2 separate regions of the Homo sapiens genome follow, and region 2 is linked to region 1. The links come from fine-mapping of genetic effects on gene expression. A gene starts in region 1. The other region holds a variant in brackets. All regions are shown on one strand. Distances are from middle to middle.

What was found. PIP is the estimated chance that this variant, and not a neighbour inherited with it, causes the effect.
Region 2: its variant is fine-mapped to the expression of GANAB in ovary (GTEx, PIP 0.93).

What each region holds. Positions count from the first base shown.
Region 1 is chr11:62,641,881-62,649,880 of GRCh38, reverse strand. GANAB (glucosidase II alpha subunit) reads left to right here and starts at 3,268. Exons shown (of 24, transcript NM_198334.3): 1 at 3,268-3,319. The coding sequence starts at 3,282. It overlaps INTS5 (integrator complex subunit 5), which reads left to right. Exons shown (of 2, transcript NM_030628.2): 2 at 1-3,033. The coding sequence ends at 2,861. RefSeq lists a silencer at 3,097-3,176 and enhancers at 3,787-3,946, 4,262-5,069.
Region 2 is chr11:63,582,298-63,598,149 of GRCh38, reverse strand. PLAAT3 (phospholipase A and acyltransferase 3) reads left to right here. Exons shown (of 5, transcript NM_001128203.2): 3 at 1-89; 4 at 7,782-8,050. LOC105369335 (a long non-coding RNA gene) reads right to left here. Exons shown (of 3, transcript XR_950179.3): 2 at 11,523-11,582; 3 at 8,060-8,121. Among named protein-coding and RNA genes, the nearest start is that of PLAAT3, 24 kb to the left of the region's middle. The variant GA/A (reference allele first, on the strand shown) is at 5,861.

The DNA.
Region 1 (8,000 bases):
CACCTGCTCGGGCTGCTGTGCTTGACCACTTGAGAGGTGTCTTTGATGAGAGTGTCCGGGCCCACCTGGCTGCCCTGGATGAAACCCCTGTGGCTGGTCCACCTCACCTCCGTCCACCTCCACCCTCTCATGTCCCTGCTGGTGGACCTGGTCTAGAGGATGTGGTTCAGGAAGTGCAGCAGGTGCTGTCTGAGTTTATCCGGGCCAACCCAAAGGCCTGGGCACCTGTGATTAGTGCATGGTCCATTGACCTCATGGGGCAACTGAGCAGCACGTACTCAGGCCAGCACCAGCGTGTTCCCCACGCTACTGGCGCTCTTAATGAACTGCTACAGCTGTGGATGGGTTGTAGGGCCACGCGTACATTAATGGACATCTATGTGCAGTGCCTCTCGGCTCTCATTGGTAGCTGCCCAGATGCGTGTGTGGATGCCTTGCTGGATACCTCTGTTCAGCATTCTCCACACTTTGACTGGGTTGTGGCACATATTGGCTCCTCTTTTCCTGGCACCATCATTTCCCGGGTTCTCTCCTGTGGCCTTAAGGACTTTTGTGTCCATGGTGGGGCTGGAGGTGGAGCTGGCAGTAGTGGTGGAAGCTCTTCTCAGACCCCCTCTACAGACCCCTTCCCTGGATCTCCTGCCATTCCTGCGGAGAAACGGGTGCCCAAGATTGCCTCAGTTGTAGGCATCCTAGGTCACCTGGCCTCCCGCCACGGAGATAGCATCCGACGGGAGCTCCTGCGAATGTTCCATGATAGCCTGGCAGGGGGATCTGGAGGCCGCAGTGGGGACCCCTCCCTTCAGGCCACGGTTCCGTTCCTACTGCAGCTGGCAGTCATGTCACCAGCTTTGCTGGGCACTGTCTCTGGAGAGCTTGTGGATTGCCTCAAGCCCCCAGCTGTGCTGAGCCAGCTGCAGCAACACCTTCAAGGATTCCCCCGAGAGGAGCTGGACAACATGTTGAACCTGGCTGTGCACCTGGTGAGCCAGGCCTCTGGGGCAGGTGCCTACCGCTTGCTGCAGTTCCTGGTGGACACAGCTATGCCTGCTTCGGTCATTACCACCCAGGGCCTGGCTGTGCCAGACACCGTGCGTGAGGCTTGTGACCGGCTAATCCAGCTGCTGCTGCTGCACCTGCAAAAACTGGTTCATCACCGGGGAGGGTCTCCTGGGGAAGGGGTGCTAGGCCCGCCCCCACCTCCCCGCTTGGTGCCCTTTTTAGATGCGCTCAAAAACCATGTTGGAGAGCTGTGTGGAGAGACGTTACGATTGGAACGGAAGCGCTTCCTCTGGCAGCACCAGCTCTTGGGCCTGCTGTCTGTCTATACCCGGCCTAGCTGTGGACCTGAGGCCTTGGGCCATCTGCTGAGCCGAGCCCGAAGCCCTGAAGAGTTGAGTTTGGCCACCCAGTTATATGCAGGGCTAGTGGTCAGCCTCTCTGGCCTCCTGCCCCTGGCTTTCCGAAGCTGTCTGGCTCGGGTGCATGCAGGGACATTACAGCCTCCCTTCACGGCCCGGTTCCTGCGCAACTTGGCACTGCTAGTAGGGTGGGAACAGCAGGGTGGCGAGGGCCCTGCAGCCCTAGGGGCGCACTTTGGGGAATCTGCCTCAGCCCATCTGTCTGACCTGGCTCCTCTCCTGCTACATCCTGAGGAGGAAGTAGCTGAAGCTGCTGCCTCTCTCCTGGCCATTTGTCCCTTTCCTTCTGAAGCCTTATCCCCCTCCCAGCTCCTGGGACTGGTAAGGGCTGGGGTGCACCGCTTCTTTGCCTCTCTGAGGCTGCATGGACCCCCAGGTGTGGCCTCAGCCTGTCAGCTTCTCACCCGCCTGTCTCAGACATCCCCAGCTGGGCTCAAGGCTGTCCTGCAGCTGCTGGTTGAAGGAGCCTTACATCGAGGCAACACAGAACTGTTTGGTGGGCAAGTAGATGGGGACAATGAGACTCTCTCAGTTGTTTCAGCTTCTTTGGCTTCTGCCTCCCTGTTGGACACTAACCGGAGGCACACTGCAGCTGTGCCAGGTCCTGGAGGGATTTGGTCAGTTTTCCATGCTGGAGTCATCGGCCGTGGCTTAAAGCCACCCAAGTTTGTCCAGTCACGAAATCAGCAGGAAGTGATCTATAACACCCAGAGCCTCCTCAGCCTCCTGGTTCACTGCTGCAGTGCCCCAGGGGGCACTGAATGTGGGGAATGCTGGGGGGCACCCATCTTGAGTCCAGAGGCAGCCAAAGCAGTGGCAGTGACCTTGGTGGAGAGTGTGTGTCCCGATGCAGCTGGTGCAGAGCTGGCCTGGCCCCCCGAGGAACACGCCCGGGCCACCGTGGAGCGGGATCTCCGCATTGGCCGGCGCTTCCGCGAACAGCCCCTGCTCTTTGAGCTGTTAAAGCTGGTAGCAGCTGCACCCCCAGCCCTGTGCTACTGTTCCGTGCTGCTTCGGGGGCTGCTGGCCGCCCTCTTGGGCCATTGGGAAGCCTCTCGCCACCCTGACACGACCCACTCCCCCTGGCACCTGGAGGCATCCTGCACCTTAGTGGCTGTCATGGCTGAGGGAAGCCTCCTGCCTCCGGCCCTGGGTAATATGCATGAAGTATTTAGCCAACTGGCACCTTTCGAGGTGCGTCTGCTGCTGCTCAGTGTCTGGGGTTTTCTCCGGGAGCATGGGCCCTTGCCTCAGAAGTTCATCTTCCAATCAGAGCGGGGTCGCTTCATTCGGGACTTCTCCAGGGAGGGTGGAGGTGAGGGTGGACCCCATCTGGCTGTGCTGCACAGTGTCCTCCACCGCAACATCGACCGCCTAGGTCTTTTCTCTGGCCGTTTCCAGGCACCTTCACCGTCCACTCTCCTTCGACAGGGGACGTAGCCTTTTCTTGCTCTGGAAGCCCAGGGAGGTTGAGCAGTGAGAGAGGGAAGGGACTAACGTGCTCCGGAAGGGTGGAGGTTTCTCTTCTAAGTCCTTGGTCTAAAGAGCGCTGTCACTTTTTTCTCTCCCACTTTTTTTTTTCTAAATAAAATTTGCCAACTTGAGAAAACCAGTCCAGTGCTTCTGTCATGCTGAGAGCGTGCAAAGTCTGACAGCGCCTGGCTCTGGACGTTCCCGCCCCTGGCCTGAAGCCCCGCCCCCTGCGATAATTTGGAGTGCGCACTCTACCAATGAGACAGCTGCCCGGCGGCGCTCAGGTCGAACCAATCATAAGGCCGGAAGGGGCGGGAACTAGGATACGTGGCTGAGCGCGCGCGATGGGGCGGGAGGTTTGGGGTCAAGGAGCAAACTCTGCACAAGATGGCGGCGGTAGCGGCAGTGGCGGCGCGTAGGAGGCGGTGAGGAGCCCGGAATCTGGGGGCGCGCCCGGGACGCCCCCAGATCCCCCAAGTCCCATTCCACTCCTTCCTGTGTGTCTCTTGACACTCTGCCACCCCCGGCCTCGTGAGGAACCTTTGTTCCTCTGGAGGCGGCCTCAGACGCCTCCGGTCTCCCCGTGGTAGATCCGAGCGACGCTGGGGGCCTTGCCTGTGGGGCTCCGGGCTCCCGCCCGGCGGTTTAGTAAAGCCACAGCTGTGCGTCTTTCTTGGTCTTGGCCGCTCTCAGCCGCCGCCCTCCTTTGGCTGCTTGCGGCGGTCAACGTCGCCGCCCCCTTCCTGCAGTGCGCGGGGTCGTCGGGGCGGGGGAAAAGATGCGGCCTGGCCTCGGGGAATGCAGCCTGCGGCCCCGCGGCCCCTCGGCTGAGCTGGAAGCACCGGGCCAGCAGTTAAGCCTGTACTACCCTTCTGGCTCTACCCTGTAGAGCTCCGAATCCTCCTCTGCCCTTGTCTTCACGTGAGCACCAGCTCTGGCTTAGTTCAGTGTCCACGGTCGCTGGGCACGGCCCAGGGTCCAGTAAGCTCACGGCGTGGATGGTGTTGCTCAAACACAACATGTAATCGAATGGCTTGGTCCACGCTCTCGGGTTTATATTACTGGGGAAAAAAAAAGATTCGAAACATATCACCAGTGCCACAAATGTTTACTAGGACCTAACGGATATACTGGGGTGGGGTAGGCGTGTACTCTCCAAAGCGATGAAGAAAGCGTGGATCATAAACTCAGTTCCCTCGGAGCCTGTGATCTGAAACAATAAATGCGTGCAACTTGCCCTGCAGCTTATTCCTGACTTTGGCCTATGAACACCTCTCTTGGGGTGGTCAAGGCCGCCGTGAATTCCTTAGGGCCCTCCAACAGGTCATATCTGAAAGATGCTTTAGGAATCCTATCTCCATTGGCATCTTTCCGAACCAATTTTACAGACTGTGCAAATAGGGCCCCAGAGGGTATTTAACTCACTGTACGTCTTTTTTTTTTTTTTTTGAGAGACAGAGTCTCGCTCTGTTGCCCAGGCTGGAGTGCAGTGGCGAGATCTCGGCTCACTGCAAGCTCCGCCTCCTGGGTTCACGCCATTCTCCTGCCTCAGCCTCCCGAGTAGCTGGGACTACAGGCACCCGCCACCACGCCTGGCTATTTTTTTGTATTTTTAGTAGAGACGGGGTTTCACTATGTTGGTGAGGATGATCTCGATCTCTTGACCTCGTGATCCACCCGCCTCGGCCTCCCAAAGTGCTGGGATTACAGGCGTGAGCCACCGCGCCCGGCCTCAACTCACTGTACTTCTATTTACTGCTGCTTTTGGCAGGTGGACGTGGGTCAGTGGCCAAGAGTGCCTGTTGCAGTCACTCAGGTCACTCACTGCAGGACCTGTGCCGCATGCCTTGCTATGGAGTTTTGTGGTAGCATTTATTCTGCTTGGCCTATTAAACCACAGTGCCTAGTGTTTTCTTCATTTTTCTGTCTGGCCTGCTGTGGAACAGTTGTTTCGTACATTCCTCTGGAGCTGGAGGAGAGTCCTGTGATGAGATCATAGTACACTCTGTGATCTCATTTCTGGTAATTTTCTTTTAGCTTTCAAGCAGATGCTGAAGCTAATGCTAGATAACTAGATACAATGTGTATAATAGACCCTGTCTTTAGTTACCTTATTATAGGTTGTCAAATTTTATTTATTTATTTATTTGTTTGTTTACTTATTGAAACAGGGTCTCGCTCTGTTGCCTAGGATGGAGTGCAGGGGTGCAATCTCGGCTTACTCCAGCTTCCACCTCCCGAGTTCAAGCGATTCTCCTGCCTCATCCTCCCGAGTCCTGGGATTACAGACGTGTGCCACCGTGCCCAGCTAATTTTTGTATTTTTAGTAGACACCCCATTGACCAGTCTTAATTAATTTACTTTTTTGAGACAGAGTCTTGTGCTGTGGCCCAGGCTGGAGAGCAGTGGTGCAATCGTAGCTCATGCAGCCTCAAACTCTTGCGTTCAGGCAGTCCTCCGGCTTCAGCCTCCTGATTAGCTGGGACTACAGGCACCTGCCACCATGCCTTGCTACTCTTTTTTTTTTTTAAGTAGAGACGAGGTCTTGCTGTGTTGCCCAATCTTCCCTTTTTGACCTCCCAAAGTGCTAGGATTATAGACGTGAGCCACTGTGCCTGGCTGGTTGTAAAACTTTATTGCTTAGAAGAACCCTCCCACCCCCAGTTTGAAACACTTTCTCAGAGTATGCTCGTATTCTGCCCATATCAGTGTCACTGGGAGAGCATGTTTAAAATGTGGTGTCAGCCGGGCACGATGGCTCACACCTGTAATCCCAGCACTTTGGGAGGCCGAGGCTGGCGAATCACCTGAGGTTGGGAGTTCGAGACCAGCCTGACCAACACAGAGAAACCCCGTCTCTACTAAAAATACAAAATTAGCCGAGTGTGGTGGCACGCGCCTGTAATCCCAGCTACTTGGGAGGCAGAGGCAGGAGAATTGCTTGAACCCGCGAGGCAGAGGTTGCGGTGAGCCAAGATCGTGCCATTGCACTCCAGCATGGGCAACAAGAGTGAAACTCAGTTTCAAAAAAAATTAAAAATAAAATGCGGTATCCAGGGTGGGTGCAGTGGCTCACGCCTGTAATTCCAGCATTTTGGAAGGCCAAGGTGGAAAGATGGCTTTAGCCTAGAAGTTCAAGACAAGCCTGGGCAACTTTTTTTTCTTGTTTTTGAGACAGAGTCACACTTTGTCACCCAGGCTAGAGTGCAGTGGTGCGATCTCAGCTCACTGCAACCTCTGACTCCCAGGCTCAAACCATTCTCGTTCCTCAGCCTCCCCAGTAGCTGGGATTATAGGCATGTGCCACTACGCCTGGCTAATTTTTGTATATATCTATTTTTTTCTAGGTGGTGTTTCGCTGTGTCGCCCAGGCTGGAATGCAGTGGCACAACCTTGGCTCACTGCAACCTCTGCCTCCCGGGTTCAAGCAATTTTCCTGCCTCAGCCTCCTGAGTAGCTGGGACTGCAGGCGTGTGCCACCATGCCCTGTTAATTTTTTTTTTGTATTTTTAGTAGAGACGGGGTTTCATCATGTTGGCCAGGCTGGCCTCAAACTCCTGACCTCAGGTGATCCACCCGCCTCAGCTTCACAAAGAGCTGGGATTACAGGTGTGAGCCACCACGCCCGGCCTAATTTTTGTATTTTTAGTAGAGATGGAGTTTCGCCATGTTGGCCAGGCTGGTCTAACTCCTGATCTCGTGATCTGCCCACCTGGGCCTCCCAAAGTGCCAAGATTATAGGTGTGAGCTACCATGCCTGGCTGATTCTTAACAGACATTAAAATTTGAGAATCTCTGTTTAGGATTTATTCAGAATCCTAAGGATGAATCCTGGATGAATATATTCTTCAAACTAACTTATTTAAATAAGCCTATTAGTCTCTTATCTGTCATTTCATAGCACATTGGGAAATTGACAATTCGTGATAACCTTGGGATGATGGTCCTCAATGAGACAGGCCCATTTCATCCTGCTAGTGATTAGTGTGCTGTATTGTGCATCATGGTAAAGCACATGGGCCCCAGAGTCAAGCACAACTGGGTTCAGTTCGTTTCATCCCTTACCAGCTATTTAATCTTGGGTGAACTATTCAACCTTTTATGCTTTAATTTTCCCATCTGGAAATAAACCCCAACCCTATATTCACCAAGAAAACAATGGAAGAAAGGGAAAAGAAGATGCATGTAAAGAAGTGGTTGTGAACCCAGGTTGCTCATTAGAGTTGTTTAGGGAACTTTAAAAAAACTTTAGCCAGTGGGGCGCGATGACACAACGCCTGTAATCCCAGCACTGTGGGAGACTGAGACGGGCGGATCTAGGTCAGGAGTTCGATACGAGCCTGGCCAACATGATGAAACCCCGTCTCTACTAAAAATACAAAAAATTAGCTGGGCATGGTGGTGGGCACCTGTAATCCCAGCTGCTCGGGAGGCTGAGGCGGGAGAATCGCTTGAACCCAGGAGGCAGAGGTTGCAGTGAGCTGAGATCATGTCACTGCACTCCAACCTGGGTGACAGAGCAAGGCTCCATCTCAAAAAAAAAAAAAAAGTCTGATGCCCAGGCTTCTCTCTGATTAAGTTAAAATTTTTAGAAGTGAGACCAGGTCACTGATATTGTTAAAAACTGCAGGCAGGCTGGGCACAGTGGCTGACACTATAATCCCAACACTTTGGGAGGCCAAGATGGGAGGACTGCTTGAGCCCAGGAGTTTAAGACCAGCCTGGGCAACAAAGTGAGGCCCTGTTGCTACCAAAAAAAATTTTTATTTATTTTTTTTGAGTCAGAGTCACGCTCTGTTGCCCAGGCTGGAGTGCAATGGCATGATCTGCTCAGTGTAACCTCCACCTCCTGGTTCAAGCAGTTCTCCTGCCTCAGCCTCCTGAATAGCTGGGATTACAGGCCCCTGCTCCCATGCCTGGCTAATTTTTGTATTTTTAGTAGAGATGGGGTTTCACCATATTGGCCAGGCTGGTCTCTTTGCCAGCCTGGTCTCGAACTCCTGACCTTGTGATCCGCCCACCCCGGCCTCCCAAAGTGCTGGGTTTACAGGTGTGAGCCACTGCGCCTGGCCAGAAAAAAAACAAAAACCACAACTTTTTAAAAAT
Region 2 (15,852 bases), 940 kb before region 1:
TGGAGACCTGATTGAGATTTTTCGCCCTTTCTACAGACACTGGGCCATCTATGTTGGCGATGGATATGTGGTTCATCTGGCCCCTCCAAGTAAGAACACATGGGACCTCCACTGTGATGGGCCCCAGGGGCTGGGAAGAGAGGGGATGGGGAACTGTGGGTAACAGGTGACCCCAACATTCTTCTTGCTTCCCAACTGGCAGTTGTCTCTGAATGTTACAAGAAGTTTGATATGGGGCAGTTTGGTGTGGGGCACTGGTTTTCAAGGTCTGCTCCTGGGAACCTCAGGGGGTTCTTTAGAGCAGGGGTCCCCAACCTCCAGGCCATGGACTGGTACTGGGTAGGAACTGGGCTCCAGAGCAGGAGGTGAGTGGTGGGCAAGTGAGCGAAACTTCATCTGTATTTGCAGCTGCTCCCCATCGCTTGTATTACCGCCTGAGCTCCACCTCCTGTCAGATCAGCAGCGGCATTAGATTCTCATAGGAGCATGAACCCTACTGTGAACTGCACACGCAAGGGATCTAGGTTGCACACTCCTTGTATTAGTCTGTTTTCACACTGCTATAAAGAACTACCCGAGACTGGGTAATTTATAAAGAAAAGAGTTTTGTTTTTTGTTTTTTTTGAGACAGAGTCTTGCTCTGTCACTCAGGCTGGAGTGCAGTGGCGCAATCTCGGCTTACTGCAAGCTCCGCCTCCTGGGTTTACGCCATTCTCCTGCCTCAGCCTCCTGAGTAGCTGGGACTACTCAGGTGCCTGCCACCACACCTGGCTAATTTTTTGTATTTTTAGTAGAGACGGGGTTTCACCGTGTTAGCCAGGATGGTCTCGATCTCCTGACCTCGTGATCCACCTGCCTCAGCCTCCCAAAATGCTGGGATTGCAGGCGTGAGCCACCGCGCCCGGCCCTTCAGAAAGAGGTTTAATTGACTCACAGTTCTGCATGGCTGGGGACGCCTCAGGAAACTTACCATCATGGCAGAAGGTGAAGGGGAAGCAAGGCAGGTCTTATATGGTGGCAGGAGGCGGGGGAGTGCCACACTTTTTTTTTTTTTAGATGGAGTTTCGCTTTTCTTGCCCAGGGTAGAGTGCCATGGCACAATCTCGGCTCACTGGAAACTCCACCTCCCAGGTTCAAGTGATTCTCCTATTTCAGCCTCCCGAGTAGCTGGGATTACAGGCACCTGCCACCACGCCCGACTAATTTTTCTATTTTTAGTAGAGATGGATTTTCATCATATTGGTCAGGCTGGTCTTGAACTCTGGACCTCGGGAGATCCACCTGCCTCAGCCTCCCAAAGTGCTGGGATTACAGACATGAGCCACCATGTCCGGAGTGCCACACTTCTAAACCATCAGATCTTGTGAGAACTCACTCATTATCATGAGAACAGCATGAGGGAAATCTCGCTCATGATTCAGTCACCTCCCATATAGTCCCTCCCCTGACACATGGGGATTACAGTTTGACATGAGATTTGGGTGGGGATACAGAGCCAAACCATATCACTCCTTATGAGAATCTAATGCCTGATGATCTGTCACTGTCACCCGTCACCCCAGAAGGGACCATCTAGTTGCAGGAAAACAAGCTCAGGGCTCCTACTGATTCTGCATTATCGTCAGTTGTATGATTATTTCATTATATATTACAATGTAATAATAATAGAAATAAAGTACACAATAAATGTCATGTGCTTGAATCATCCCGAAACCATCCCTCCCCACTGCCGAGTCCATGGAAAAATTGTCTTCCACAAAACCAGTCCCTGGTGCTAAAAAGGTTGGGGACCGCTGCTGTAGAGGGACCAAGGTGGCATCTGAGGACGAAGCTCTGTTTTGATGTGTTTTTTATGCCGTGACTTTGTATGCAACACACTCAACTCTTTTTTTTTTTTTTTTTTTTTTTTTTTGACAGAGTCTCGCTCTGTCGCCCAGGCTGGAGTGTAGTGGCGCGATCTCGGCTCACTGCAAGCTCTGCCTCCGGGTTCACGCCGTTCTCCTGCCTCAGGCTCCTGAGTAGCTGGGACTACAGGCACCTGGCACCACCCCTGGCTAATTTTTTGTATTTTTAGTAGAGACGGGGTTTCACTGTGTTAGCCAGGATGGTCTCGATCTCCTGACCTCGTGATCCGCCTTCCTTGGCCTCCCACAGTGCTGGGATTACAGGCGTGAGCCACTGTGCCCGGCCGCAACACACTCAACTCTTAAGCGTAAAGCTCCTGGGAAGAGTGCAGGTGTTTGGGCAGAGAGACTTGGTTATGAATCCAGTTTCCATTCTTCAGCCTTGATTTCCTTTTTTGCAAACTGAGGATATGAATACTTAACTTGGAGAACTCTTGTGAGAATTCCTCACCCTTCTCTTAAGCCTTTAACTTAAACTGGGGTATAACATAAGTATTGTAAAATGTACAAGCATAGTAAAGTATACAGTCAGTGAATTAAAAAAAACCATCCATGTAACAGTGCCCCAGATCCACATCTAGAACATTCCCACTGTGCCACTTACCCTGAAAGGCTCTCTCATGCTTCTACAATATGCCTCCCCACGCCTCGCCCAGGCAACCATCATTCTAGCTTTTCCTGCCATAGATGAGTTTTGCCTGTTCTAGAACTTCATGGAAGAGGTATCACACGGCCCGTGCTCTTTTGTGTCTGGCTTCTTTTAGCCAACATCATGCCCATGTGAGTCATCCATGCTGCTGTGAGTAGCAGGAATTCTTTTTCACTGCTGTGTATTTTCTGTTATATGAATATGCTACAATTTAGCATCCATTTTTCTGACATCAGACTCATTGCAGGTTTTGACTGCTATGAATAGAGCTGTTATAGACACTCTTTTTTTTTTTTTTTTTTTTCCGAGACGGAGTCTTGCTCTGTGGCCCAGGCTGGAGTGCAGGGGCATGATCTTGGCTCACTGCAACCTCCACCTCCTGCTTTTAAGCGAGTCTCCTGCCTCAGCCTCTGGAGTAGCTGGGATTACAGGCACGCACCACCATGCCCAGCTAATTTTTGTATTTTTAGTAGAGATGGGATTTCACCATGTTGGCCAGGCTGGTCTCAAACCCCTGACCTCAAGTGATCTGCCTGCCTCGGCCTCCCAAAGTGCTGAGATTACAGGCGTGAGCCACCGCGCACGGCCCTTGAACATGTCTTTTGCATATCGTTTTAATTCTAACTAGTGGCCTCACCCTATCAGTAGTAACCAGAGTAGATGTCATCTTCCCCACCCTGAGCCCCTTACCCATGTACCCCCACCCCCTCCTCTTCCTTTCATAAGCACTTTGCTCCTCAAATTCCCCACCTCCTTCTGTATTGTCATCTTCTCCCTTTCAACTGGATCATTCGTATTGACATAGAGACAGCTGTAATATATCCCGTTGATCAAACGCCCGGCCTCACATCCTTCTCTGCTTAACGCCCTACAGAGCAGATCTCATTACAGCTTTGTCTGCCTGGCCACCTCCGGTTCCTCGCTTCCCATTCTGCCTTCCATCCCCTATACCCACACTTTCTTTTTTCTTTTTCTTTTTTTCTTTTTTTTGAGATGGAGTTTTGCTCTCAGACTCTCTTTTTTTGCCCCCCTGACAGAGCAGTTCTCAAGGGTAGGGAAAAGCTTCCACATCTTGCCAAAGCTTAAAGCCAAGTCCCATCACAGCTGACTTGGCTTCTCTGCAGCATTTGATGTGAGTGACCTTCCTGCTCTCCACCTGGCACCTGACTTTCTTCCTCTCCCTCTGGGCCCTTCTTTTTTGGTCTCTTGTGTGGGCTCCTCCTCCTCTCTCATTTCCCTAAATCGAGCTCAGATGACCTCATTGGATTCCTTAGCTTCCAATACCTTCTATTTGTCAATATCTCCTAAGCCCAAACCCTCAATTTACATCCCCCTTCAGCTTCAGACTTGCATAACCTCTTGACTACTTGGTAACTCCACTTGGGTGTCTACCTGGCATCTTGAACTTGATCTGCCCCAAATGGGAGGCTCCAGTGGAAGACACCATTCAGCTGCTCAGGCCTAAAGCCTAGGAGTCATTCTCCGTTCCTTCCAACCCATGTCTAATCTATCAGGGAATCCTGTTGGCTTTATCTCTGAAACAGACCCCAGCTCTGACCACTTCTTACCATCCCCACTGCAGCGCCCTGGTATGAGCAACCACCCTCCCTCGCCTGGTGGCAGTGTCACTTCTGGCTGGTCTCTCTGCCTCTTGCCACTCACGGCCAGTTCCTCATTCATGGGCAGGTGGTGTGATTGTTTGAAAGCGTAAATCAAGGGCCAGGTGCGGTGGCTCATGCCTGTAATCCCAGTATTTTGGGAGGCTGAGGTGGGTGAATCACCTGAGATCAGGAGTTTGAGACCAGCCTGGCCAACATGGCGAAACCCCGTCTCTATTAAAAATACAAAAATTAGTCGGGCATGGTGACGCGCCACTGTAGTCCTATCTACTTGGAGGCTGAGGCACGAGCAGGAGGCGGAGGCTGAGGCACGAGCAGGAGGCGGAGGCTGCAGTGAACCAAGATTGCACCACTGCACTCCAGCCTGGGTGACAGAGTGAAACCCCGTCTCAAAAAAACAAACCAAAACCAAACCAAAACAAAGCATCAAAGTCTACACTGTGGCCTGTAGGGCCCGGCCTGGTCTGGCCTGGTCTGTGACTTTGGGCCTCGTCTTTCTCTTCTCCCCTCCTGGGTCTCTAGACTCCAGCAACGTTGGCCTCCTTGCTGCCTCTTGGCATGCCAAGCTCTCTCCTCCCTGCAGACTTCATTCCTGCTGTTCCTTCTGTTCTAGATGCTTCATCATTCAAGCTTCAGCAAAGATGCCTTTTCCTTGGGGTGGCCTCCCCAGCCTGAGCAACAGCAGCCTCTGCTGGTCATCCTTGCCATGTCACTCCACTCTGTCTTTCCATAGTGTCTGTTGGTACCTGCAAGTATCTTATTTTGTGTATTTGTTCATTGTCAGCGTCTTCTCAGTAGCATGGGAATTGCTTGAGGGCAGGCCTGCTGTCCAGATCACGTCACTGACTTCAGCACCTTGGACAAGGCCCGGCACCCAGTAGGGCCTCAGTATTGATTGGCTGCACTGAGCAGGTGTGTGTGGTAGATAGAGGGTTGGGGAAGGCATGACAAGCACCCGGGTGGACAGGTGGACAGGTGTGTCACAGACCATCAGGTCAGTGATACTCCTTCAAAGGAAAAGATGCTTCTACCTGCATCTCACTTGAGTTTCACAGGAGTCATGTGGGATAGATGAGGCAAGGAGGACTGACCTTCTGCTGCTGAGAAAACTGTAGAAATTAGAGCTGGAAGGAAGCTTATAAACTTGCTGAAGTGCCTGTCCTGTGCCAGACACTGGTGAAAGCATGTTTTCTGGCCAACCCCTTTAATCCTCACAGCTGCCTGTGCAGTAGGGACTATTTTTGTTTCTATCCTACAAGGAATGGGGGACTCAGAGAAGTTAAGAAACTTACCCAAGGTTGCATAATGGTAAGGGGTGCAGGCAGGACCCAAACCCAGGCAGTCTGACTTGATTCTGTGCACTTAACCACAATGCTGCACTGCCCAGTCCAAGCTATCCCAAAATTCAGTCGCTGATGGATTGCCACATCCACATGCTCTTTCTGTGATTGTTCACTTCATATTTTCTTCAGTAGACTCACTTTTTAAAAGAAGGAACTTTAGGCCAGGTGTGGTGGCTCACACCTGTAATCCCAGAACTTTGGGAGGCCGAGGTGGGTGGATTGCTTGAGCTCGGACCAGGCTTGAGTTCGAGACCAGCCTGGCCAACATGGTGAAACCCCATCTCTACTGAAAATATAAAAATTAGCTGGGCATGGTGGTGCACACCTGTAGTCCCAGCTACTCAG[GA/A]GGTTGAGGCATGAGAATCGCTTGAACTGAGGAGGAGGAGGTTGCAGCGAGCCAAGATCACACCACTGCATTTCAGCCTGGGCAATGGAGTGAGACTCTGTCTCAAAATAAGAAAAAAAAAAGAAGGAACTTTAAATTACTGTGTTGATATGTATTTGTGCATCAATTTTAGTGTGTATTTGGGGATTTCTGGAGCAAAGTGAAGTGACAGGTCCAGACCACTCAGCTGGTTGGTGATGTGCTGGGGTCGAACCCAGAGCTTCTCACCGCCAGCTTGAGCACAGGGTACCCCTGTCCTGGGTGGCATCTAGATATAAGTTTAAGGAAGTCCTCACTCTTGGTTGTTGACTCTGCACTTGCATGGCCCTGAGATTTGGTGCCTCCTTAAACTTTGGGCTCTAGGCAACTTGCTTGCCTCTTCCGAGTCCCTGCGCTGTCACCCACTTTGCCTGGGAGCTGAGGCTGGGTGGGCCCCAGGAGCTCATCCTCCCGACAAACGCAGGGCTCCAATAAGGCACCCTCTCTTTTATTTACTTCAATGAATCTTCCAAGCTTCACGTGCCCTTTTCCTATCAAGTCTGAATTCCCTAAATTTCTAATATCTTGGCATTGCATGTAGGCATTGCATGCAGGCTGAAAAGGTTTATTGGTCTTTGGAAAGCGGAGAAGAGCAGGACCTGAAATCTAATCGGCCTCTCCTGCTGTTGCTGTCACACGGATGTCATTGTTGAAGACTGGTCCTACCCAGTTTAACAGGGTGCTGCTGTGGCACCCTGGGGGCCTTGACCCTGACAGGGTCACAGTGGCTGTTTGAGGAGAGTGAGAGTGAACCTCCTTTGACATGCTCCCTGGGTGCGTAGGCCCATCCCTTGAGTGCATACCTACTTTTTCTTTTTCTTTTTTTCCTAAGGCAAGATCTCACTCTGTTGTCCAGGTCGGAGTGCAGCGGCGCAATCTCAGCTGACTGCAACCTAAACCTCCAGGGCTCAAGTGATCCTCCTGCCTCAGCCTCCTGAGTAGCTGGGATCACAGGTGCACACCACCATACACGGCTAGTTTTTGTATTTTTTGTAGAGACGGAGTTTTGCCATGTTGCCCAGGCTTGTCTGAAACTCCTGGGCTTAAGCGATCTGCCTGCCTTGGCCTCCCAAAGTGCTGGGATTACAGGTATGAGCCACTGTGCCCAGCCCATCCCCACTTTTTCAATCATCATACTCAGTGCCTGCCTCTCCCTGCGCCACACAGGTTGTTTGAGTTGGGAGGAATGCCCAGTCTGTGTTGGCATCAGCTTTCCCTGTCCACCATCCTGGTCTTCATGTTGAACCTGGACTCCTTGTCTTCAAGATCATTTCATTTCTGGAGCTTTGTGGCCCTTCCTTGCCCTGGGCCTTGGCCTGGGCTGTGCCCATGTACCCACTAAGCCTCCTTAGCATCCATCACAGCTAGGGGGACAGCTGTGCGTTTTGGTGGGTCTGTTTCCAGAAGGGCTGGGACTCTGGAAAACCCAGCCATGTTTTCTGCAGTAAGCAGCTTTGTGTGGTCAAGTAGGTGTAGCCCTGATGCCATCATAAAAGTCTCCCACCTTATCTTCCCAGGTGGATGAGTATGCTCTTGGCTCATATTTGCATAACCAAGGGGGCCACTTAAGTGTCATGAGGTATAGAAGACCACCTTCTCTAGAGTAAGAAAAAAATCACAGTAAATCATGGAACTTCACTCCCTTTCATTTTAGATAAGGAAACCAGGGCCCAGAGACCACACACACCTTCCCCAAGGCCCACAGCCATGCGTCTGACCCTTCCACTTGTTGCTTATCCTTTGTGGATGAGCCAAGGGCAGATGCCCGGCTGGGGGCCAGCTCTGAGCCTCCGTGGCCCTTCCCAGGACCAATCCCTCTGTTTCCTCTTTGTGGATCTGCAGGTGAGGTCGCAGGAGCTGGTGCAGCCAGTGTCATGTCCGCCCTGACTGACAAGGCCATCGTGAAGAAGGAATTGCTGTATGATGTGGCCGGGAGTGACAAGTACCAGGTCAACAACAAACATGATGACAAGTACTCGCCGCTGCCCTGCAGCAAAATCATCCAGCGGGCGGAGGAGCTGGTGGGGCAGGAGGTGCTCTACAAGCTGACCAGTGAGAACTGCGAGCACTTTGTGAATGAGCTGCGCTATGGAGTCGCCCGCAGTGACCAGGTGCGTCCTCTGCCTGTGTCGCCTTCCCCAGGAACCAGACCATTCCCTCTGCTGACGGAGGCTGGGCATGGCTATGGAGGCATGAACAAGACAAAATAGCAGAGACAGAATTACTGCCCTTGAGGATGTCACAGTTGGGACAAGGGTGGGGACAAGGGTGGGGAGAGAGGCAAGTTGGCAATGCAGATCAGTGTAGTCGGGGGCGGGGGTGGGTGGCCAAGGAAAGGAGTCACAGACATGATGATCATTCCCATTGCCAAGCCCTCCCTGGCCACCTGTCCCTGAGATGGCCCTCCCCAGCCCTAAAGGCAGGTTTTAGGACCCACTACCTTACAGATTGGGAAACTGAGCTTAAGTAACTTGTCTACAGCCATTCATTTCATCAAAAAAATCTTTGTTGAGTCTCCAGACCTGGTACCTGTCTTTTCCTGTGCAGATAATTAGCAGAGTTGGGATTTGAAGCCCAGGTCTGTGTGGCATAGCCTGATCGTGCTTATAAACAGCACTGTCTTCAGCCTGGCTGAACCCTAAGGGTGAATCTGGGAGACCCTAGGGGATGCAGTTTTGTTCATTTACTTGATTTTATTTTTGTCTTTCCTCTCCTTTCAATCTCTTTTTCTCTTCTCATTTCCTTGCACTTCTTCCCCCTCCCTTTCAGCCACTTCCATCTTTTTTTTTTTTTTTTTCTTTGCATAGGTGAAAAGAACATTGGGAAGGTTCTTACATGGCTGTTGATGCAAAAGAATACATATTTTTTTCAGTGAATGATTAGCTTAAGATCCATCAGGCTGTTCACTTTTATTATTATTTTTTTTGAGATCCAATTTCTTCTTCCCTGGTCAGTGTGGTGGTTAAGAGCCTGGGCTCCTGGAGTCAGGCCAACGTGGGCTGGACCTGGTCTCTGCCTTTTGCCGGCTGTCTGACCTCAGGAGAGTTAGTCCAGCTCCCTACACTTTGGTAAAGTACGAATGATAATACTCATCTTGGAGGATTACCTTGTGAATTAAATAAGAGCATGTTTATTCTTAGCACACTGAATACATTGTAGTAGTAAAAATAGTCATGATTATCCTCATTTTTTTTTTTTAAATTATCCTCCTCTTTTTTTTTTTTTTTTTTTTTGCTTGGCTCATCCATTGCCTGGTCCCCTGGCCTCTGTGGGCCACAGCCACTTGAATGGGAAGACACTGACTAACACCACCTATAGGAATCACTCTTACTCTCTTCATACTGCTGATAACCAGCTGTGCTTACTACACCAACCCTCATGTTTGTTAGGCGGTTCCTATACCTGTCTACAGTGGGATATTAGTTACCTTTGAATGGGTATCCTCTTATTTTTTTCTTCGATCAGTTGGGTTATTCATGTTCAACAACTATTTATATATGAATGTTAAAGGTGATCAACTTAGAAATTGAGTAGGTGGTACATAGCTAACTAGGTAAAGAAAGGGCAATATTGCCAATGTTTGTGAAGATTGCAGTCTGTTGGTCATGGTCTGGCTTCAACTTCCCTGAGAGTTGATAAGAGCTTTCTTCTGGGGAATCAGTGGGCAGGGCCATGAGAAGAACTTCATTAGTGCCTGAATATTGTCAGGTTAAAAAGGTGATGCAGTGAAAGAAAGCAGGAGACCAGGGGATGGTGGCACTTACTACATCTATCTCTTGGGGATAACAGCCTTCAAAACATTTGTGTCTTGTTTTTCTTTTCTTAAAACAATTTTATTTTAGGCCGGGCACAGTGGCTCGCACCTGTAATCCCAGCACTTTGGGAGACTAAGGCGGGCAGACCACTTGCGGTCAGGAGTTTGAGACCAGCCTGGCCAACATGGTGAAACCCCATCTCTACTAAAAATACAAAAATTAGCCGGGCATGGTGCTGGGCATCTGTAATCTCAGCTACTCAGGAGGCTGAGGCAAGAGAATCACTTGAATCCGGGAGGCAGAGGTTGCAGTGAGCCGAGATCACACCACTGCACTCCAGCCTAGGTGACAGAGCAAGACCCAGTCTCAAAAAAAATTTTTTTTATTTTATTGTTTTTTATTTTAATAGAGATGAGGTCTCACTCTGTTGCCAAGGCTGGTCTTGAACTCCTGAGCTCAAATGATCCTAACGCCTCAGCCTCCCAAAGTGCTAGGATTACAGGCATAAGCCACTGTGCCCGGCCACATTTGTCTCTTGTCACACTTGATGAGGCATTGCTGTCATCTTGGTATCTCTCTTTACTAGCATCCTAGAAATTTCTTTCAGTTCCCTGCTATATTAATGCTTTTATCCTCTGTAGTTCACATCCTTCTCTTTTTTGGTTTATGCCCTTGTTTTGGTAGACTACTTCCCCTAATAGTTTACTGAGAAATGGTACATTTTAAAAAGATCCCTAGGCAGGCATGGTGACATGCGCCTGTAATCCCAGCTACTGGTGAGGCTGAGGCACGAGAATTGCTTGGACCCAGGAGGCAGAGGTTGCAGTGAGCCGAGATCACGCCACTGTACTCCAGCCTGGGTGACAGAGTGAGACTTGGTCAGAAAAAAAAAAAAAAAGACCCAAGAAACAAAAAACAAACAAAAAAAGATCTTGCATGCCTGAAAATATCTTTATTTTATCCTCACATTTGATTAATCATTTGGCTGGGTATAGAATTCTAGGTTAGAAATAATATTTTTTTTTTCAGAATTTTGAAGGCATTGGTTTATTGTCATCTAGCTTTTGTTATTGTGGTAGAGAAGTCTGAAGCTGTTCTGATTTTTTATTGTTTGTATGTGATCTATTTTTTCTTTTCAGAACTGTATAGAATCTTCTCTTCATCCTCAGTGTTCTGAAATTTATTACCTTGCACGGGTCTATTTTCATGTATTGTGCCAGGTACTTGGAAACTCACTTTCTTTAGTTCTTGGAAATTTTCCAGTTTGTATTCTCTGGCACTCCTATTATTAGGCTATTGGATCCCTAGACTGCTTTGCTGATTTTCTTATCTTCTCTCTCTTGTTTTTTATTTATGTATCTTTTTATTTATTAAGACAGAGTCTTGTTTCGTCACCCAGGCTAGAGCACAGTGGTGCGATGTTGGCTCGCTGTAACCTCTGCCTCCTGGGTTCAAGTGATTCTTCTGCCTCAGCCTCCAGAGTGGCTGGGAATAAAGGCATGTGCCACCACACCTGGGTAATTTTTGTATTTTTATTAGAGATGTGGTTTCCCCATATCGGCCAGGCTGGTCTGGAACTCCTGACTGCAAGTGATCTGCCTGTTTCTGCCTCCCAAAGTGCTAAGATTACAGGCGTGAGCCACTGTGCCTGGCCCATTTATGTATCTTTTTAAATTTGAAAATGAACATTTATTGACAGATTTAGGTATAATAGAAGTTTTTTTTTTTTGAATTAGCAGTGACAATATTAGCATAAGAAAGACAAACATGATAACAAATTGAGTTTCATCATTGGTGATCTTGCATCACTATCAAGGTGTTTACTTACTCTTGGTAAAACTCATGCTCCTATGCAGCAATAAACTCCAAATACAGAGTACAAGACAACCTTGGGAAGCAATAAGATACTTTTTGAAATTCAGAGTTCTACGTTAAGAATATTTGGTAGGTTTACAAAATATATCCTAATCATCTCATTTAGTTATTCTTTCAGCAGTTATTAACAGAATAAAGAACGGGGCTGGCCGGGCGTGGTGGCTCACGCCTGTAATCCCAGCACTTTGGGAGGCTGGGGTGGGTGGATCACCTAAGGTGAGGAGTTTGAGACCACCCTGGCCAACATGGTGAAACCCCGTCTCTACTAAAAATACAAAAATTAGCTGGGTGTGATGGCGGGCACCTGCAGTCCCAACTACTCAGGAGGCTGAGGCAGGAGAATCGCTTGAACCCTGGAGGTGGAGGTTGCAGTGAGCCAAGATTGCGCCAGTGTACTCCAGCCTGGGCAACAGAGCGAGACTCCTTCTCAAACACACACATACACGTGCACACACACACACACACACACCCAAGTAGCTGAGACTATGGGTGCACATCACCATGCCTGGCTGATTTTTGTATTTTTTGTAGAGACAGGGTCTCACTTTGTTGTCTGGGCTGGTCTTAAACTCTTGGTCTCTAGCAACCCTCCTGCCTCAGTCTCCCAAAGTGCTGGAATTATAGATGTGAGCCACTGCGCCTGGCCATAAATGCTATTTGGAGTAATTAAATAAAATTCCAAATCTTGAGATAGTAAAATAACTAAGAAATGTCTTATACCATTATTCTTTTTGTAAACAATAATTTAACACTTGCAAAATGAAACAATGCAAATTGAACACATCACACTTTTCTTCCTGGGACTTTGGCCCTACCCATCTACCCATTCACTTGAAAGAGGCAAAACAATGATAACACAACAGTGAAACAGCATGAACAATTCTACTTGATCCCATCACAGAAAATGAAGCCAGAATATTCTACAACAAAAACAGAGGTGCCATCTCTACTGCTTCTAAAGATTTCCTCTTTCATTTCTTGGTCTAGGATAGGGGTTTCTCAGCCTCAGCACTATTGACATTATGGGCCAGATAATTCTTCATTGTCAAGTCCTGTCCTGTGCACTGTAGGATGCTTAGCAGCATCCCTGGCCTCTACACACTAGATACCAGTAGCATCCCACCGCCAGATGTAAGAACCAAAAACGTCTGTAGACAATTCCCCCCACAGGGAAAAACTGTCTCCAGTTGAGAACTAGTGACTTAGGTGAGTAATGATCACTGACACATGCTGTGAGTCAAATTAACATAGAACTTCTGGCCGGGCGCAGTGGCTCATGCCTGTAATCCCAGCACTTTGAGAGGCCGAGGCGGGCAGATCATGAGGTCAAGAGATCGAGACCATACTGGCCAACATGGTGAAACCCCGTTTCTACTAAAAATACAAAAATTAGCTGGGCGTGGTGGTGTGCACCGGTAGTCCCGGCTACTCGGGAGGCTGAGGCAGAATTGCTTGAACCCGGGAGGTGGAGGTTGCAGTGAGCCAAGATTGCGCCATTGCACTCCAGGCTGGGCAACAAGAGCAAAACTCCATCTCAAAAAAAAAAAAAAAGAACTTCGATGCATGCCCCATCTTGCTAGAGATGATAGATTTAGTACATATCAGAAAATGTCCACCAGTATTTTTCTTTGTAAGCACTGTCAGTGCAGTGACTCTCCTTTTCATTTAACTCATGAGGATATTTTTGTGTGTTTTAAAGAATCTGACCAGTCATTATATTTGTGCTGAGCTCTTTGAAGCAGACTAGATTTTCCTTCAAAAGAATATTTATGGCCAGGTGCGGTGGCTCACGCCTGTAATCCCAGCACTTTGGGAGGCCAAGGCAGGTGGATCACGAGGTCAGGAGATCAAGACCATCCTGGCTAACCTGGTGAAACCCCGTCTCTACTATAAATACAAAACAAAATTAGCTGGGCGTGGTGGCCTGTAGTCGCAGCTACTTGGGAGGCTGAGGCAGGAGAATGGCGTGAACCCAGGAGGCGGAGCTTGCAGTGAGCCGAGATTGCACCACTGTACTCCAGCCTGGGCGACTGAGCAAGACTCTGTCTCAAAAAAAAAAAAACAAAAAAAAACAAAAAAAAAAGTTTATGATTAATCAAATTTCCTGAGAAGGGAAACAATGAATTTAAACTAAAACGTAATTTGTGCTTTACATGCCTAAGAATATTCTAAAAAAAAGATTCTCCTACTTTCCACCTACCTAAAAATATTTAGGTTTCAAAAAACATATATTTTAGTAGGGTTTTGTAAAGAAACTTTCATACTGAACAGTACTTAAAAAAAAAAAAAAAGCAACCAGAAGCTATACTCACAATGAAGTCTAGTCTGAGTGAGAGAAAATATTAAGGTAAATAGAAATTGAAGATGTGTCTGGCGGCAATACATATATTACATAAATCTGGATAAATTGTGGGGTATTATTTTGAAATTACTGTAAATGAAACCAAATTTTTATGCAAATATTTTATTTCTTTTTAAATGATTTATTATTTTTTGTATACTTGATCACTGTTGGAAAATATACAACTATTTCATAACCATTCTTATATTGTAACCTCTAACAGTCTCAATTGGATTGCTTTCAGAATAACACTACTATCTCCACTTCTTCTTTAATCCACCTATAACATTGTTGAAAGTGAAGGCAGCACATTAGCACTTTCTTTTTTCCAGAAATGATTTAGATTTCCCTAAATCAAGGCTTAACTCAGAAGAGCTTTGTAGTATAAATGTCTAAATGTCTGTAGTCTGGCAGAATTTGTTTGCCCACTTAAAAAAAAAACAGTCTTCTTAATATTTCTAATGAGAGACAGCTTTTCTCTTTCACAATATCCTGATATCCTGATTTAAGACCTGTGACACACACCAGGTAGCCCATTTTCATGATCAGAAATCCTGTAATAACAACACAGCAGCTGGATTGGACCTTTCAGTCTTGCAACATGAAAATGATCAATGGCATCTGAAGGTAGCACTGACTCTTGGAGAGAGAGTTTTTCCCATCAAGTTTGCACTATTAGGACTAACTAGCTTCCAACAGTCTTGTGTTTAATCATACTCTTTGACTATGTACAAAGCATGGCCACAAACAATGAGGTTATTGTTGTTTTCCTTGACAAAGTATCTTTTGTATGAACCAGTTGCATCAGCTTTTGTTTTCACACCATGAGGTTCTATAAAGAACTAGGGACATATTGTTCCTCCTCCATTATCTGCAGACTATTTCTCCTACCCTGACACAGAGCTTAGCAAGGAAAATGCTGGATACAAGTGATTTTATGCAGGTTCCCTAGCAAGTTAACCCAACAGAACCATGGCTGCCACAAAACCATGCCTAATTATCTTTTAGAGGAGCATTTAAAGACTTAGCAGCAGTCAAACCTCAGGTTGGTAGCTCCATCCAAACTTTGGTCATCATGAATTCTGTCTGTTAAAACTACTTTTTTTTTTTGAGATGGTGTCTCACTCTGTCACCCAGGCTGGAGTGCAGAGGTGTGATCTCGGCTCACTGCAACCTCCGCCTCCCGGTTCAAGTGATTCTCCTGCCTCAGCCTTCTGAGTAGCTGGGATTACAGGTGCGTGCCACCATGCCTGGCTAATTTTTGTATGTTTAGTAGAGATGAGGTTTCACCATGTTGGTCAGGCTGGTCTCGAACTCCTGACCTCATCATCCGCCTGCCTCGGCCTCCCAAAGTGCTGGGATTATAAGCATGAGCTACTGTGCCTGGCTATCTGTTAAAACTTCTATGTGACCAATGTTGAGAAGAGTTTGGGGATCTTCAGTGGTTAAAAATATATACGTATCTTGATGCTACTGAGGCTTATCTGGGCCATAAATGTGTTTAATGTCAGGAAACACATAGTTGTGTTTAACCTCAGGAAACACAGCAGTGTAATTAACACAAGGTGCCCAGAACTGATTTCTCAGCAGCCAGAACTCATGATGAGAAAACTCACAGCTGAGTGTCGTGGTGAATTGTGATAGTTTCCTTTCTGTTTTGGGAGGGAAGTGGAGGGAGTTCTTTTTTCTTTATGATAATTATTACTTCCTTTCATTGCCGAGTTTTCTTTGTACCTGTTGTCAATTCTTCCCACATGATCCAATTAGCTCTCAGTACAGTTCTCCACAAGGGAAACCATGTCAAGTAACCTACAAGTTCTTGTTTATTTTGCTTGGACACGTCTATCCCAGAGATGGCCCTTCTTCCCTCTGTGCTGGTTGCTCCTTGGCCAATTGCATGGCTGTCATCCTGGACTCCCCTTGGCTGTCATCCTTTGGATTT